Regions from separate parts of the Homo sapiens genome. Here region 1 is linked to region 2. The links come from fine-mapping of genetic effects on gene expression. A gene starts in region 2. The other region holds a variant in brackets. All regions are shown on one strand. Distances are between the middles of the regions. Region 1 holds the start of GPR84-AS1 (GPR84, ZNF385A, ITGA5 and GTSF1 antisense RNA 1). Region 2 holds the start of ZNF385A (zinc finger protein 385A).

Region 1 (8,899 bases), 33 kb after region 2:
AAAGCTTGGGCTACAGAGAGGGGAAGGAGCTGATGTCAGAAGACGGATGGGCAGCAAGATGGGGATTGATGCTAATGGGGGAGTTAAAGCTAAGTACCCAGACACTCAGAGGGCAGAACTGCAGATCTGTCTTCCTTATGCTCACCCCCTCTCCAAACCAAGGCTGTAAATCTGCCTCTTCAACTGGGGGAAGGGGGACTGAGGAAAAAAGACATGCTCTCTTCTCCCCTTTCCTGTTTCTTCCTTACTTGGTGTGCCCACACCACCCCCCTCCACCCAATTCTTTTGTCCTCTCCCATTCTCTTGCAATCCACAACCCCTTCCCACTAAAATTTCCAATTTTGGGCTTTGCATCAGAAATTGACAGAATGGTTTCAGCTTGCAGAGGAGTTTAAGAGAGACCACAAGTTTTCCCTCACCAGACCCGGGTGGGAATGCTTGGTGGGATTGTGGTGAGAAACTGGTAGATTGGTAACTCCCAGATCCCTCAGTTTCTCATCCTTCCACTGTCTTCTCACTCGGAGGTAACTCTAGCAGCCGTCTTCCAGGACAATAGGGTAAAGGCAAGAAGCAGGAAGTTGGGTGCCAGGGGCTGGAAGGGGCATGAAAGATTCTGAGCTGGGTTTGTGGAGGCTTCTGACACACTGAGATTCTAGAGGGGCTGGTGGTGGGCTTCCAAGGGCAGCTAGAGAAGCTGCGGGAGCTGTCCACTGAAAGATATACAGTCTGGTTTCTCGGAAACTCCTGGATCATACTGTTCCCTCTCCTCAAGCACACACCCTGTCTGCTGAGTAGAGACAATTTCGGGCCAATAGTGTATTTACTGTAAAGGACCAGCTGCTCCTTGTACCTCTCAGGAGGGAGTTGGGGATCTTAGGGAAGAAGACTTTTTCAGAGGGGCTAGAGCTAGAATTAGCCCTTGGTAAATTTCATTTCTTTCTTCTTTCTTCAGGTGAGACTGTTTCTCCCACCTTTCAGGACCCATAATCACCCCTATTTCCTTTCCTACTGGCAACCAGGGCCTGTTCTTGAGAAGTCCCTCTCTATATTAGAGGACAGTCCCTCTCATCTGTTGCAGTATTAGGCCTGAACTCTTTCCCAGCCCTGGAAACAGTTGGTGCCTGATTGCCTCTAGTTTCCAAATCCTCTTCCATATCCATAAAAGAATAACCCTAAGATATCAATCTCATCTCTTCCTTTCTCCCAGGTTTTCCTTCAGAGGCCTAAAATCACCTCAGGGTCATACTCTTCTCTGTTTTCCAAGTCTTCAGAGACAAGGGAGAGAGGAAAGCTGGAGTGGGAAAATGGGGTTGTGAGCAGCAGCCACTGGAACCCAGCCTTCCAGCCTCCCGGCATCCGGCCTAGTGCTCCCTCCTATCTGAAGGAGGTCAGCCATTGCCCTCAGCCCTGGTCTCTGGCTACTTCTCAATACTGGTGATAAATCCTGTCTTTGTCTCCCCTCTGACCCAGGCCCCAGGCAGGCTGGGGGTCAGAGCTGGGGGAGGGGTCAGTGTGGAGGAAGGGGAGATACAAGGAGAATGGGGAGAAGATAGACAGGAGCAGCTGGTGGGCAGGCATGGGGGGTGGGCAGTGAGGGGATGGGGCTCTTCATTCTACAGATCCTGGACATTCCAGCAGGCCTGCATTCCAAGTGAGAAAGCCAGGATTGCCGAGTTGTGGAAATACCTTTGGAATGGTCCCTTGAGCATCTGGAATACTGGGAGATGGGGGGCTAGTATGGGGTGCCTCAAGGAAAGAGACTGCTGAAAGAAGTGGAAAAATATTGTGGAAATCATCCTATCCATACCGCAGACCCCTGTGCAAATGTGCCATGCGCACACACACACACACACACACACACACTCACACACACAGGACTTATGGCATGAGGGAGCCCCGGAGAGCCAGGCTGCCCTTTGCCTGGCCCCTCCCTAGTGGCCTTCTCTTGCTATGACTTTCCTGTTTCCAACTCTATTCTTTTTCTCTGCTCCCAGTCTTGCCTTCCTTCTTTGTGTCTCTCATTCTCCCAGTTTGTTATTCTCACCGTCTCTCAGCCTCTGCCTCGGTCTCTCAATCACTTTTTCTCTCTCATTTTGTTTCTTTCCATCTTCTTGTCTCCCTCTCGCCCCTCCCCAAATTCTTTGGACGCTGCTCCATCTGTCCTGTTTCTGCCACTCTTCAGCCCAGCCATCCCTCCTACCTCAGTCCCACCTCAGAACCCTGTTCTGACCCAGAGGATACCTTTGGGAGTTAAGATTCCAAGAATAGATGGAAAGGAGAAAAGAGGCTCTGAATGAGTCCCTGCTTTAGTGGGAGGTCTGGGAATCATACTGGGTTATGATATGGCACGGAAGGGCAGGGTGGGCAGAAGGTGACCAGAAAGAGAAGCACAACTAAGGGAGGTAGGGTGAAATGAGAGGGAAGAGATTGAAAAAGAAAAGGCATAGGCCGGGCATGGTGGCTCACACCTATAATCCCAGCACTCTGGGAGGCCGAGGCGGGCGGATCACCAGAGGTCAGAAGTTGGAGACCAGCCTGGCCAACGTGGTGAAATCCTGTCTCTACTAAAAAATACAAAAAAAAAAAAAAAAAAAGCTAGGCATAGTGGCACATGCCTGTGATCCCAGCTACTCGGGAGGCTGAGGCAAGAGAATCGCTTGAACCCGGGAGGCGGAGGTTGCAGTGAGACAAGATTGCACCACTGCACTCCAGCCTGGGCAACAGAGCAAGACTCCATCTCAAACAAACAAACAAACAAACAAAAAAGGACACCAGGCCGGGTGCAGTGGCTCATGCCTGTAATCCCACCACTTTGGGAGGCCAAGGCAGGTGGATCACTTGAGCCCAGGAGTTCAAGACCAGCCTGGGCAATATGGCAAAACATCGTCTCTATAAAAAATACAAAAAGTTAGTCAGGCATGGTGGCACACACCTGTAGTCCCAGCTACTCAAGAGGCTGAGGTGGCGGGATCACCTGAGCCCAGGGAGGTCGAGACTGCAGTGACCTACGATCATGCCACTGCACTCCAGCCTGGGTGACAGAGTGAGACCCTGTCTCAAAAAAAAAAAAAAAAGAAAAGAGAAAAGAAAAGACACAGAATGACAAACACTAAAGAGAGAAGGGTGCGGACTTAAAGTTCTCTCTGTGTGTTTTGGGTCAGTGTGAAGGGGAGGAGCTGAGGGGCATCTCTTAAGTCATATTGAGATACAGGTTCAAAGACAAGGTCTGGAGGCTCAGCCAGAAAGATGTGATGTCCACCAGGCATCCACAATTCTGGACTCTCTGTCACCTACCTAGGAAGTTCTCAGAGACCTTTTTCTCCTCTCCAGACAGTCTTGGAGTGTTGGTTCCTTCCCCATTCACCTCCTCCACTCTGTCACCTCTCTTCCTCCCCCAGTGAGAATGACATCAGCTCTGGCTGCCCCTGTCCTCAGCCCTGTTGCTGATGTACTCTCCCATGGGTGAAACAGAAGGCTAATCACCTTTGCCCCATGCATTCACTCTCTAGTCCAGGAGCTGGAGTTTACATAGCCTAGCACTCTGGAGTAGGAGTGGGAGGAGGCTGTACCAAGAAGGTAGCTGCAGAACATTGTGGGAAAAGAGGGGGCATGGGCATCAGGGGGAGGGAGAGGGAGAGGAGTGGAGGAGGGCACTTGAGGAACAGAGGCAGCAGCAGTAAATCACCCTGTTGGGGGGCTCCCTCTGCCTGAGCTCAGTGGGGTAGGGAAAGAATAGACATAGGGGGGTGGGGGGAAGAATGGGGAATCGCCACATCTGGCAGGCAGGTGTCTGGCACTGTTCAGGCTGTAGCCACTTTCCCAGCCAAAGGGGAGGAAGGGGGAGAGGGGAGGAGGGGCCTCCCAGCATTCCCTGGGAAAGAGGGAAAGGCTCACAAACAGAAAGACAGAGGCTTACAGACAGAAAGAAACCAAGGAAAAGAAATAATCAGACCCTGCTCCCAGGCTCTGCTTCAGTCAGTGCTTGGGGATGTGTTTACTCATAGCCCTGAAAAAAAATTGCTGGCCAAAAGACTGGGTAGGCCAGGGCACCAAAGTTCCATTCATGCTGGAAAACAGAAGGCAGGAGTTTAACCCAGACCAGGCTGGGGAAACTGAAGCTCAGAGAATTCCAAGTTTGAGAACTGGATAGAACTCCACACCATCACAGATCACCACCACCCAGCTCTGGCACTGACACTGCCCCTCCCCCAGGTCAATGCTGTGTGGTGAGTAGGAAGATTAGGATGTTAAGGCTGAGTATTGCTTTTCCCCAGCTCAGACAGGCAAAGACAAAAGAAGTACCTAGTCTTTATCCAAACTCTTGCACTCCAACTTTCAATGCAGGACTGTTGGCAGACGTGGTACACCCAGGTATTTTTCTTTTCTACCTGCTGAGGAGTATCCCATGCACAGGTGCCCCATAGTTGTTGAGCTTAATTGTCAGGTTTTCACAGAAGAGCAGGCAAGACTGGAAAACTCTGGGTTTCATGTTCTGATGCTGGAGAGACTCTCCCCATTCCTGCTACCTTCCTTCCCCCATCCTTTCCCATCTGAGATACTAATTTGGTCTCCCTTGCTTAATCCTGGAATTGCAGGTCCATTTTATGAGCGGCAGAGGTGACTGAGGAGACCCTTCAAACTGCAGTGGAGAAGAGGCTCCCCACACTCCCCCCTCCTTAAAAATCCTGCAGAGGAAGGGGGAAAGAAAACCAAAGCATTCTGTCGCCGCGGCAACCATAAAACCCCCAGCTAAATCCATCTTGTGAGCTCACCGCCCCATTAAGATGCAGGGCCAGGCGCTGCGCCAGCCCAGCCACATTCATTTGTGCGAATAAAGGTGGAGGAGGGGGAGGGGAGCAGGCTCTGGAGGGACGGGGAAATGGCGAGAAGAGGTTATTTACACCACCGTCCTGACCTTCTGGAGCAGCGCTGGCTCCGATAAATAACCCGCTCAGCGCCGTTTCAGAGCAGGAGTGGGAGGTGCAGGAAGTGAGCAAGGGCTGGAGAAGAGCCCCCACGCAGGTGCGCGTCTCTGGGTTACTAATGGCTGAGGCGGGAGCAGGCAGCTGGCTTTGGGGGTGATGGGGGAAGAACTCAGTTCCCTGGGACTCCCACTGAGAAAATACCATCCCCACCCCACCCCTGGCGCCAATTTCCAGGCGAGGGGACGGAGAGATGCCAAGGAGGCAAACAGCCCCGTAAATTAGGGATGGGGGGGCACTGCTAGGAGTCTCTGAGGTAGGAGGGAAGAAATATTATAAGATGGGGAATGACGGGGGGCTGGAGGAACAGGAGTAGCTGCCAAAAAGAGAGGAAGAGAAACAGAAACATCACACAAAGGCAGTTTGGAAAAAATGTTTTATTCCTCTTTGCACAGAGCAGTTTATGAAGGTGGTTTTCTCCTGACTCCATGCAT[C/A]TTTTACACAAAGATGCCCCCTTAAATATGCCCCGTTATCTGCCCCACCTCAGTGCTGGAGAACTGGCAGTTAGTAAGTGGGGCAGAATGCTTAAGTCTCAGGAAGGTTTTTAAAGGCATTTTTGTGGGGAGGAAGTTCTGGGTCAAGGGGAAAGATTAGACCCAAGAGTGAGTATTCCATTCTCCATCTTCCTGGGGAAATCCAAACCCCAAAGGTTTTATGAAGAAAAGCACCTCTCTCAGCGACCTAGAGACAGGGAGAGCACAGACCTACTGCTTGGGTGTAAGGCTGAGGCAGAGAGAGGGTAGGTTGCAGCGACTGCAGACCCACGGCAGAGAGTAAATGCATGTCGGGGAGCTGAGGGGACAGAGACAGCCTAGAGGCCCAAGTCATAAGTTCCACTCCTTCCCCAGTTCTGAGTAGAAACTTTTCTTCCCAAGACTAGAATGGAGTTTTAGTTTTAGGAACTGGCTTTGCTCCAGGACACAGAGAAGACAAACCAGGCAACGATCCCACAGGTAGTAAGGGTGGACAGTTAAGGTAGCTAACTAAGAGATGGACACTCGCCACTGCAGTTTTGAAGCTATATGCCAGATCAGGGTACAGAATGCATTTTATATGCCCTGTTCAATACAATTTAAATCGCTGTTTCTTCCATGTTGTCCCTTCCCTATGAACTATTCCCAAAGCCTCTTCCAAGGCAGAGGACAGGGCAGTAAGAAGGAATGGAAGAAAACACTGAGGTCACTAAGTGGGGTTAGGGCTTAGATTGGATAAATCCCTACCCATCCCCGCCCCCACTCGTTCTATAGAAAAGAATTCTCTTTCTCTCTCCCCTTGCTGGGCTGTTGGGATGAGGGCCAGGTAGAGGCAAAGGGAGGAAAACACTCAGCACATTCTTTCTCCTACTTTAATCTGAAGTGTAGCTACAGCAAAGGGCACAGAATTTACAAAAATGTCAGGGCAAGGGAGCATGTGAGCATAATCCAGTCTAGAAAGAAAGAGGGTGCTTCCCCTGCCCTATTATCTAAATATGCTGGGAGCTTTACTCCCAGAACTGCAAGAAGAATGAAAAAGAATAGGAAGGGTGTAGGGGAGGTTGAGGGGGCAACCACAAACAGAATGGAGATTTAAGGATCCCTGTGATCCCCGAGATGACCCTGAGAGCATCGATTGGGGAACTAGATGAAAATTCACAGCAGACATGCAAATTTTTTGAAGAGGATGAAGAGCCAGGAACAGTGAGGTCTTCACCGAAGGAGTGACCACTTGATCTGTTCTTTGGCTGACTGCAGCACCTGCAGAGATAAGAGCAGCATTGAGGAAAGCTTGCTGACAGGGCAGGGTAAGGATGAGGGCTGGGGATCTCCTTCCCCTCACTTGTCTTCCCTGTCCTTAGAAGAATGGAGAATAGAAAATCCCCAAGGGTAAAGAGATGGGAAGAAGCTCTCTAAGGCCCTAGCAGATTGTTTGGAAAATTCCAAAAAAATTCAAACCCACTGAGGGGATGAAGAGAGAAGAGGTATACCTGGTATAAAAGAAAAAAAAAAAGGGAGTTACTGGACATATGTTAAAAGGGGCGGCGGGCAGGGGGCGGGTAACAAATCCAGATGGACTTCTTGGTGAGAATTCCAAGTGGGTAGAAAACGGAACCCCTCCCTTCCCCCTACATCAGGTAGACAATCTATCTGCAGTCAAGGTAGCAAGATGGATCTGCAAAACCTGCATATTCTAGAATATGCATTTCCAGCTTAGCCCTCAATTGAATAATAAGAGAAAGAGAGTGTGTGTGCACAAATGCACACAGACCATCTGCTTAAGGCAAGCCTCTGCTGGGGAATAAATCACTGAATGAGGCATCAGGCAGGCAGGGAGGGTTTGAAGGGTACAGAGCAAGGCTGACAGCCACTGCTCACAGGTAACTGAGAAAGGAGTTGGAAGTAGGGGTAGGGAGTGGCTGGCTGTATGAGTCCCAGTTCTCTGGAATAAGAGGGAGCCAAGGAAGATGTGTCTTGAGTCTCTAGTTTCACTCAGATTTGAGAGGTATGGGTGGAATGCTGTTCTAGCCTCTTTAGTGACCCAGTCCATCTGGAAAGGAAGAAGGGAGAGTCATACCTGAGACACGGTCTGCTCCGTAAGGGGGACATCTTCACCCTATGGCACAGAGATACAAGCATTTAGTGTGGGAGAAAGCTGGAGTAAGACCTGATTGGAGTCTGGTATTAGAGAAGAAAAAAGTGATCCTTTAAACTGAAACAAAGGGCAGATGCACTGAACTTCTCAGTCCCTTCTAGGGACTAGTACAGCTACAATTTTACTTGGCCAGAGGGACTATGAACAAAAAAGGGTCATTTCATCCAGCTTCCATTTTAAGGCAGGAGGACTTCTTAAAAGATTTAACTCCATTCAGAGTAACCAGCAGGTTATCTGATCCTCAACTCCCTTAACGTGGGGGTGGAGGACCTGATTCCCTAGTCAGAAAAGGCCTTTTCTGAATATCAGTATCACTAGGGAAAGGATGAGGGGGAGCCAGGAGTGGTTTAATGGATCCCGCAAAGCCTGATGGGTAACGACAGCATGTTAATTTGAAGAAATAAACTGCTGCAACAGCAGCCTAAGAAGACAAAGCGGGGAGTTGATGGGGGGGACCCTCTCTCTTGCCACACAGAGACATATGTTAGAGGAGAAGATTAAACTATGCAAATGGAGCCCACAGCAGTTAAGAGAGATTTCCCATTACCAAGCACTGTCAGCCTTCACTCTGTGGAGGTCAGAGCCAGGACATTCTGTGAATGGGGAGATTTGCTTTGCTCAGACATCTTTGCACCCGTATAATTTGTTGGTGGGCTCTCTCTGCATCCACCATTATCTCCTCAGCTGACCTGGGGCCTTCTATGGTTAACTCAGAGGCCCCTTTCTGATATCACCAGCACCAAAGAGGACTGAGGTTCTGGCAAATAAGTACTTCCTAATGGAGAGGTACCATCCTCAGTTATGTAACACTTTATTATTATTATTTTATTTATTTATTTTTTTTGAGACAGAGTCTCACTCTGTCGCCCAGGCTGGAGTGCAGTGGTGCAATCTCGGCTCACTGCAACCTCCACCTCCCGGGCTCAAGCAATTCTCCTGCCTTAGCCTCCTGAGTAGCTGGGATCACAGGCACGCACCACCATGCCCAGCTAATTTTTGTGTCTTTAGTAGAGACAGGGTTTCACCATGTTGGTCAGGCTGGTCTCGAACTCCTGACCTTGTGATCCGCCAGCCTCGGCTTCCCAAAGTGCTGGGATTACAGGTGTGAGCCACCACGCTCAGTCCTATGTAACACTTTAAAAGACAAAACAGACACTCCTCTGCCTCAGATGACTGGATCCATCTCCAAGAAGGGAATAAGCCAACTTCAAGTTGCTTTATAATTTCAAAACCATAAATATTAAAGTTTATTTTATCATTTATTAAATAAGTATGTATTAAATGTCCAC
Region 2 (9,376 bases):
GGCCTAGCTGTGCTCTGGACTCTGCATCAGCGCCGGCTGCATGCCCCTGCCCTCCACCCTGCCTCCACAATAGTCCACAGGCCTGCTCTGACCTCTGCCCTCCACCCTGGCTAGGCTGGTTTCTGGGATCTGTTTATGATGGGAGCCCCCCAACCAGGCCTAGACACCTGTGGTCTCCCTGCCCCCAACCGAGGACACCTGGCTCCATGCTGGTACCTGGAGGGCTTGACTGGCTCCTGCACTCATCCCTCTCCTGAGTCCCTCTGCTATTTGTCTTCCTTTCTTACCTTCTTTCATTTCACCGCCTATCCCTGTTGACTACCTATTGTCCTTCTGCCCTTCCTCCATCTCTTTTTCTCTCCTCCTCCTGTGTGTCCTCAGTCTCTCTCTGCTGTATGTCTCACCCCCTCCACCTGGCACTCCACCTATCTATTGAATGGATGACTGAACGAAGGCATGAATGGCTGGTTGCCTGCCTCCTTCTCAAGAGCCTCTCCAGCAGGGGAAGGTATTACCCACCCTTCTATGAATACCACCCTGATGCTAGAGTGACCCCCACCAGCACACATTGCACTCAGTCCCCCAGAGCACAGGACCCACATTCCTCCAACCTGTGTGATCTCTGCACCCTGGCTCCACCCTGGGCACAGCTCGAGAGGCAGCATCATGCTTGCCCAGAATAGGCTGGCATAAGCCGTGCTTTCCCTGGTCAGCAGGCCCTGAAAAGGACATCAAGGACCTGCTTGCTGGAGCCTGACCAAGACCCCAGCCACAGGAATAATTCCTGGGTCCACATTTTCTGAAACTGGACCACAGCCACAAGTGGTACCCTCACATCCCCCTGGAGGACACTGTAATTAATTCCCTCCTTATGCCAAGCCCACAGAGTGCGGGAAGTCTGGCAAAGCCCACATACCTTAGCCCTCTATGAGGAAGGAAGGAGAGAGGGAGGAAGCTGCCAGCCAGGGCTCCGGCCCCACCCCCAGGGACCCCCAGGGACCCTACAAAGGTTTCAGTTCTGAACACTTAGGTCCTCTGAATCCATGTGCATGGTAGCCGTGGAGGGACCCTAAACCCTCCCTGCCTAGCATGTGACACCCAGCCAGCCTGCTCAAGATCTAGAGTCTGGGCCCCAGGTTTAAGATGGCAGTTCTGGGCTCAGGTTCCCTGTTCTAAGCCTTTCTATACCATCCTTTCCAACTGAGTCCCTGGTGCAGTAAGGGTAGTGGCACATTGAAGGAGGCCCTTTCCAATCAAGTGGGGAAAGATTTCCCAGGGGCCTCCCTGCTCTCCCCTTCCCAGTCAACTACTCCCTCTAGGCCCAGTCCCCGCCCACATCCACCCTGGGGTTATTAGGCATGGTGTTTTGAGTAGTTGTTCATAATCATCCCCCTCGTCTCTTTCATCTTTGACTTCAAAGCCTTTCCAGTCCTCAGCCTGCCTCCTGCCAAGATGGGGGAATTGAGGCTGAAGGGGACATATACATGGAACTTGGTAAAAAAGACCCAGGGGTTCAAAGTTTTCCTCCCACCCCCGCCCTCAATTTTAGGCACTTCTGGGGAGGGAGGAAAGGCCAAAAGGCCTGAAGGGAAAAAGAGATTAATTAGAGAAGAGATCTGAATTTCTCCTGTGGCCCAAGTCTAATTCCCATTTTAACCCAGTACTGGCCCTGTGCTTTTTACCACCTTGGGCCCTAACTACTTGCAACCTTAACCCCAATATCTCTCTCTGATCTTAATCCCATTCTGGCCCAGTCTTCCAACCAACACTAACCCACAGCCCTATACTAACACCTTTCCTGGCTCCTATTCCTACTCAGATGCAGCCACTCCCTAAGCATTCTTTAACAACAGGGCTTGAGGCATGAGGCCCCACCTAAAATAGCCAAAGGGCTGGGGCTCCAGACCAGGCCCGAATTTCTAGGGAAGAGGGAAAGGAAAAGACCATTAGAGGAAGCCAGATGTGGCCTGGTTGAGGGTTAGTGCTGACAGCACAACTTGAGCAGGATCAAAGTGCCCAGGGCTAAGTAGGATGTGAAAATGGACAGATGGACATCCATCCAAGGGTCTGGAATTCACCCCCTCTAAATCATGTTGGGAGCTTTCTTTAATAAAGCATTTAGCAATTCTCGATGAAGCTGGGTGGGGCTCTATCTGCTGGAGGTAATTACTCTAATGAGCTTCCCTCAAGAGTGGCCTGCCCCAGCCAGGCCTCAGCTCCTCCCTGCCTTGCCTGACATGGGTGCCACACACACACACACACACACACACACACACACACACTTACACACACTTCAATTTGCTCTCCACCTCTTCTGCCAAACCTGCCTGGAGATTTTACCTAGCTAGAAGTCAAAAGCCCCACACTTCCTACTCAGTTCCTGCCTCCCCAGCCATTCCTATATTCCTGCCTTTTCCCCTCCTCCCCTTCCAGATCTACCCAGAAAAGTGTAGTGCTTGAAAGCCCTGTCTCTGGAACCAGACAGACAGGTTCACGTCACTCACTAACTGTGTGACCTTGGCCAAATAACTCTCCTTCTGAGCCAATTGTCATCATCTATAAGATGAGATTCATTTATTCAGCAAATATTTATTGAGTTCTCACTGTGACATGCCAGCATCTTACATGGATTTGTTCAATCCTGTCAACAACTTGGTGAGGCAAGTAGTGTTGTTTTCATTTGACAGATGAGAAATGAGACTGAGAGTCAGAGAACCTAGCTGCTCACCCAGCTAGTGAGTGGTGGGACCACCTACTGGGAGATTGTGTATGTAAAGTGCCTGGCCTATAGTAAAGCCTCAAAAAGCGGCAACTATTGTTAGCCTCAGAAAAAGAGAGGGAGAGGCCTAAGGCCTGGGCTACCTGAAACCAAGAGTCCTGTTTCTGCCCACCCGGCCCAAAAGCTGCCATCTGCCTCTCTCGCCACCTCAGAATGGAGTGGACCCAGGAATCTGGGAAGTAGATAGTTTGTCTCCAGTTGCCTGCCTGCTTCCTTCCCTCACTGTACCCTCATTTGACCCCTCTCTCCCACTCCACTCCCCTCCCCTCCCCCGCTCACCCAGGGCTCATGTCTGTGGAAAAGATGAGTTGTTAGCCATAGATAACTGAGTGGCTGCTACCTGTTTTCCTCTATCCCTCCTCTGGAGGAAAAATGAGGACTCCAACCTGAGGAAGTGCATGGAACCTGCTCTCCCCTTCCTCTCCTTGAACAAGATGGAAGCCTGTGCTCAGATCTCTGCTTCAGTTAAATTCAAGCCCTTTGGGAGTAAGGTAGCAGAGAAAGAATTTGCTGTAGAGTCCAGCAGATCTTGATCTATATCTCAGCTCTGATATTTACAGGCTGTGTGACATCAGCCAAGTTTGTTAACTACTCTGAGTCTCCATTTCCTCATAAGTCAAGTAGAAAAATATTATCAGCTACTTCATTGAATCATGGCTACTTCATTGAGCTACTTCAGAGGTTAAATATGATAATACTTGGAATTCATTACCTGGCACATAGTAGCCTCAAATTTTTTTCTGTGGCTTTTTCTGGAACTCTGCTGTCTCCTCTTAAGATGGCTTTGAGGAGTGGGAGCCTAGAGAAATCTAGAACCAGGGAAAGGGTCAAGCCAAGCTTCAGCCTCTGGTGCTCTGGGGCAGGGCAAGTGCCAGCCCAAAACCAGCTGCTGGGGGTGGATGCTGGGTGCAGGGGACTCTGGGAGCACTCAGGTTTCTCTCACCATTCCTGATGCCGCCTGGGGCTCATTAAGGCTGCCCTGGCCTTGGGTAACAGGCAGTAAGGGAGGGTGGGGCACAGAGGGCAGATGCCATAAGGGGACAGACCAGGAAGGGGAGGTGGTCAAGCTGCCCCATCCATCTATCTGTCCCTCTCTCTTCTCTTTTATCTTTCTCGCTGTCTCTGTTCTCTGTCTCTCGGTCTGTCTGCCCTAGTCTCTAGTTCTGTGTCCAGCTTTTCGGCAGTGTCTCTCTGTTTGTATGTCTGATTTCGCTCTCTGACATCTCTCCATTGTTCTCTATCCTTTTCTCTCTCAGTGTCACTGTCCGATTCCTCAGTCACCTATTCCTGCTGCTACCACTCTCCCATCCTCTCACTCACTTTCATCTGTCCGTCTCTCTGTGTGTGTGTGTGTGTGTGTGTGTGTGTGTGTGTGTCCTCTCTCCACCCCATCCCAACCTTGAAGGTGACAGAGGAGGGAATAGACACAAAGCATACAGACCCCCAGCTACTTAAGGGTCAAAGCCAAGGATCTTACCCTCTCCTTTAGCCCTGAGAATTCTGAAGCCCAAACTCCCAGTAGCCTTGACCCCCTGCTCTGTCTCAGTCACCCTGACCACCCATCCTGGCATGGGGTGAAAGAGACAGACCCCTCCAGACCTTTCTGGACCAGCTCCCAGCCCCCAGCTGTGCCTGAGCCCTCCCCACCCCCTCCCTGTCGCCTCAGATTCCCCTAATCCCTGCTCCCCTGCCCTCCCCTCTGCCCCACTTTTCCAGGATTCTGATTGGCTGATTCTACTGACTGGGCTGAGGGGGAGGGGGCTGGCAAGGGAGGGGGCAGAGGGCAGAACCAAGGGAAGGGGACGCTGTCAGGCCCAGGCCCCTGGGGGGCCAGGGCCAGGCCACTGCCTGGGGGCAGCAGGCATCAGAAACTAAAGGTATGAAAGGGGGTGGTGTCTGGAGGGAACAGGAAGGGATCCTGGAGACCTTCTGCTCTAGTAAAGTCAAGGGAGGACGGGCCAAGCACGCAGCCTCCTCGGTTTGCCTTTGTTCCTGGGAACCCCTGTTGCTGTCAGGGGGTTACTGGAGCAGTGAAGGGCGGCCAGAACTCCCCAGCTGGTGCACAGCAGGGTCGCAGAAGGGAGCTGGGCCAGTGGAAGCCCAGAAGGGCTCTGAGGACCTTTGGGCTGCCCCTTTGGAGTCTGGTGGAGTTCCTCCCGTGACTCTGAGAGGAGGAGGAGAAGGTTTCAGAGAAGGGTAGTTGAATGGCTGGCCTGGACTTTCATTTCCCCTTGGGGTCAGACCCAGGCATTCCCCGCCCATAGGCCAGGTCGAGGTTCCTCCTGCAGAACTGGACCTGTAGCTGAGCATTCCTGGTGAGACAAAAGGGCATGGGGGAAGACTGAGGAAGGTTGGGAGAAGGGGCTCTGAGAATGGCCTAGGTAGTTCACCTCCCAGAGCAAAAGCCACCCAACCCACTACCTACCCCCACAGATGTCAATAGTTAATAAAGAATTATAGTTAGAGCAAAATCTAATTCTAGGGCATCTGAGAGATTCAGCAGCCCCCCTCCAAATCTAAGTCTCAATATCCCCCTCTGGTCAGTAGGATGAATCACCCACTTGACTCTCTTCTTCCTGGGGCGATACCAAGCTTTAGGATCCCCTGGGGGAAAGCAAAACCAGAAGAAGAGGGTGGCCAGGGGCTTGAGGCTGGGAGTCCTGCTGGTTCAGCAGGCAGCCTGCAGAAAAGGTATGAGCTCTTACTGGGTCTGTAATGTGCCTAAGGAGTTTGGGGGAGGGAGGCTGGAAAAGGGGGAAGTGAAAACCACCCAGAAGGGAAGGACTGGTCTACACCCTCCCCCAGGCCCACAGGGCACTGTGCTCCATTGCTCTGGAGCCAGCAGGGGAAGTGTGTACACTATGTGCACTGAGGGTGACACTTCTGAGTGTGGGGGCCCTGGCTAGGGAGTGGGACTGGCAGGCTTGGGTGGGGTTCCCAAGCTTTAATCTTCCTACCCCACAGAATGTTTTCTCTGCCCTTCAGGCAGCCTGAGCCGGGCAGGGCCCCTGCCTCTGCTACGGCAGCCCCCGATCATGCAGCCCCCACTGGACCTCAAGCAGATCCTGCCCTTCCCACTCGAGCCAGCCCCTACCCTTGGCCTCTTCAGCAACTACAGCACCGTAAGTAGCAGCCTGCCTGCCTTCTCCATCCTCTTGTGACCCGACCTTTCTCTCTCAGACCCACCTCTGCCCTCTTCTTCTGTTTCTAATTCCTTATCTCCTCTTATGACCCCATCTTCCTTAATTCTAGTTAATTTTGAGTATTGTGGGCCATCTGGTACAGTGTTAACAACAATAATAATAGCTAATATTTGCTGAGGTCTTGCTACGGGCCAGACACTGTGCTAAGTGTTTTATATGAATTATCTCATTTAGTCCTACAGTGAATCGCCCTACCATCTAGAGAAGTAATGAGACTTAAATTGGTGGTAGTAACAGTAGGGAGGTAGGAGGGGTGTAGGTGCTGAATCCAGAAAGAGGGAATGAGCAGGAAAATAAGCATGCCTGTTTGTAAGTTTCACCTCTCTGCAGTCCACGGCTGGGTGGGTAGCATCAGTGGGATAGGGCTTGGAGGACTGGCAAGGTGGTCTAGATTTAATACAATATGAAATAAGGAGGTGCTGTCTATTCGTGTGTTTGTTTGTTTGTTTTTATGAGACGGAGTCTCACTCTGTTGCCCAGTCTGGTGTGCAGTGGCACGATCTTGGGTCACTGCAGCCTCCACCTCCCCAGTTCACCGATTCTCCTGCCTCGGCCTCCCAAGTAGCTGGGATTACAGGCGTGTGCCACCACACCGGGCTAATTTTTGTATTTTTAGTAGAGATGGGGTTTCACCATGTTGGCCAGGCTGGTCTCAAACTCCTGACCTCAGGTGATCCGCCTGCCTCAGCCTCCCAAAGTGCTGGGATTACAGGCATGAGCCACCACACCCAGCCGCCACTGTCTATTCTTGAGCAGGAGAGTGACTTGGTAAGAGCAGTGTTTGAGGAAGGTGAGTGGGGCAACTGGATGAAAGGGAACAGAGGCAGGAGGAAGGTGACAGTTAGGAGGCTGTCCTAGCAATGCAGGCCCGAGGGAAGCCTCAAAAGCCAGACGGGGCTGGTGGCAGTGGCAGTATGAGTGGAGAGAAAGGGAGAATGGGGGAGGTAATTTCAAGGAAATATTGACAGGCCATGGTGACCAACTGGTGTTTGGGGGTGGGGGAGAAGAGAAGGCATGAGTCAAGGATGACTCCAGCATTCAGGCCTTTGTGATTGGATGGAAGTCACCACTGACAGAGGCAGAGGGTTGGAAGAGGAAGCTGGTCTCCAGTGAGGATGATGCTTTAGCATGTGGTGCTAAAGCTAAAGCTTTATTTGTTTTGTTTTGTTTTGTTTTGTTTTTGAGATGTAGTCTTGCTCAATCTCTCAGGCTGGAGTGCAGTGGCATGATGATCTTGACTCATTGCAACCTCCGCCTCCTGGGTTCAAGCCATTCTCCTGCCTCACCCTCCTCAGTAGCTGGGATTACAGGCACGTACCACCATGCCCAGCTAATTTTTGTATTTTTAGTAGAGATGGGGTTTCACCATCTTGGCCAGGCTGGTCTGGAACCCTGACCTTGTGATCCACCTGCCTCAGCCTCCCAAGTGCTGGGATTACAGGCTTGAGCCACCGTGCCTGGCCTATTTGTTTTGTTTTAAAAAATAATAATAAATATTTTTTTTAAAAAAAAAAGGATATGGTGATTTGGCATACCAGTAGGACATTGAGCCCAAAATGTTCTACAGATAGTTAGAATCTGAAGCCTGGAAGGTGGGCTAGAGCTAAAAGTTTGGGGAAAGTCAGCCTTATTCAACTTAAATAACCCACATCAAACCATATTTAGCCATAAACATGTATTGAGCATTGACTACACACCAGGCACTGTAGCAGATGTTTCTATCTGCAATCTCATTTCACCTTCACAACAACCCAACAAGGTAGACATTATTATTCCATTTAACAAATAAGAAAGCAAAAACTAAGCCTCAGAAGGGTTTAGTAATTTATATAAGTTGACACAGTATGTGCCTAAGGTATGATTTGAACCCATTGCATCTGACTCTAAACAGACTTATCGTTATACCACAGCTGCTCCCCCCAAATGAGGGACCCAGACACACATTTGCATTGCACTTTTAAGTTTTCAGACTGGGCCAGGCGTGGTGGCTCACGCTTGTAATCCCAGCACTTTGGGAGGCCGAGGCAGGCGGATCACAAGGTCAGGAGATTGAGACCATCCTGGCTAACATGGTGAAACCCCGTCTCTACTAAAAAAAAAAACAACAAAAAACTAGCCGGGCGTGGTGGCGGGCGCCTGTACTCCCAGCTACTCCGGAGGCTGAGGCAGAAGAATGGCATGAACCTGGGAGGCAGAGGTTGCAGTGAGCCGAGATTGCGCCACTGCACTCCAGCCTGGGCAACAGAGTGAAACTCCATCTCAAAAAAAAAAAAAAATTCAATTTAACAAAAAAAAAATTTTTTTTGAGCACCTACTATGTGCTGGGTACTGTGCCTGGTGTCAGGGACACGGGACTCAGTTACCACACTTGGGGAGCTCATAGTTTGGTAGGAAGGATAACAAGTTAACAGTTACCCTATACAGTGTGAGAAGAGCTGTGTCAGAGGCATTTTGCTTGCATGGAAGCCCAAGTATCAAGAAAGACCTTCCTGGATGTGATGGGGCCTAAGGGACCAACCAGAGTTAGGCAGAAAAACAGAGAGCAGAGGAAAAAGGGATTTAACCTGGAGCAGGTGACATATAATTTGGGCTTTGAAGAATTATTGGCAAGATTTTTAAAGTAGTCTTAGAGAACATTCCAGACTGAAGTAAGTAGCATGAACAAGGGCTAGAAAGGAGCATTTGAGAAAGTGCAAGATTGGATGTGACTAGGTCATAAGATGGGGAGAAAACCTCCCCCCATCTAAACACCTGACTTACACTTGACCTCAGATCTTAGCAACCCCATCATTGTCCCCATTGTATAGATGAGGAAACACAGACGCAGAGAGGTTAAGTGAATTGTCCAAGGTCACAAAGCTACTTAGTTGATTGGATAATCCAGGGTTTCGACTCCTGCAGAGTTCATGGCTCCACTGCCTCTAGCAGAGGTATTTAAAGCGATGAGCATGGATAAGCTTGAAGAGTTCAGCAGGGTGTTGAACTGCATCCTGCATCTGATTGGCAGGATTTAAACTGATGTTCCAAAGTACTGGCTGTGTGATCTTAGGCAAGTTATTTAACCATTCTGAACCTCAGTTTTACTGACTGTAGAATGGGATAGTTTTTTTTTTTCTTTTTTTCTTTTTTTCTTTTTCTTTTTTTTTTTTTTGAGACAGAGTCTTACTCTGTCCCCCAGGCTGGAGTGCAGTGGCCCAATCTCCGCTCACTGCAACCTCAGCCTCTTGGGTTCAAGTAATTCTCCTTCCTCAGCCTCCAGAGTAGCTGTGGCTACAGGTGCACACCACCACGCCCAGCTAATTTTTGTATTTTTAGTAGAGACAGGGCTTCACCATGTTGGCCAGGATGGTCTCAATCTCTTGACCTTGTGATCCGCCCGACTCAGCCTCCCAAA

What was found. PIP is the estimated chance that this variant, and not a neighbour inherited with it, causes the effect.
Region 1: its variant is fine-mapped to the expression of ZNF385A in whole blood (TOPMed, PIP above 0.99).

What each region holds. Positions count from the first base shown.
Region 1 is chr12:54,348,292-54,357,190 of GRCh38, reverse strand. COPZ1 (coat protein complex I subunit zeta 1) reads right to left here. Exons shown (of 9, transcript NM_016057.3): 8 at 7,533-7,571; 9 at 5,345-6,715. The coding sequence ends at 6,668. It overlaps GPR84-AS1 (GPR84, ZNF385A, ITGA5 and GTSF1 antisense RNA 1), which reads right to left and starts at 3,500. Exons shown (of 4, transcript NR_120487.1): 1 at 3,295-3,500. It also overlaps a transcript of GPR84 not described here. RefSeq lists an enhancer at 1-247. The variant C/A (reference allele first, on the strand shown) is at 5,417.
Region 2 is chr12:54,380,953-54,390,328 of GRCh38, reverse strand. It overlaps ZNF385A (zinc finger protein 385A), which reads left to right and starts at 5,596. Exons shown (of 7, transcript NM_015481.3): 1 at 5,596-5,901. The coding sequence starts at 5,815. All of the region lies in intron 1 of GPR84-AS1 (GPR84, ZNF385A, ITGA5 and GTSF1 antisense RNA 1), which reads right to left. RefSeq lists enhancers at 1,771-2,404, 2,405-3,039.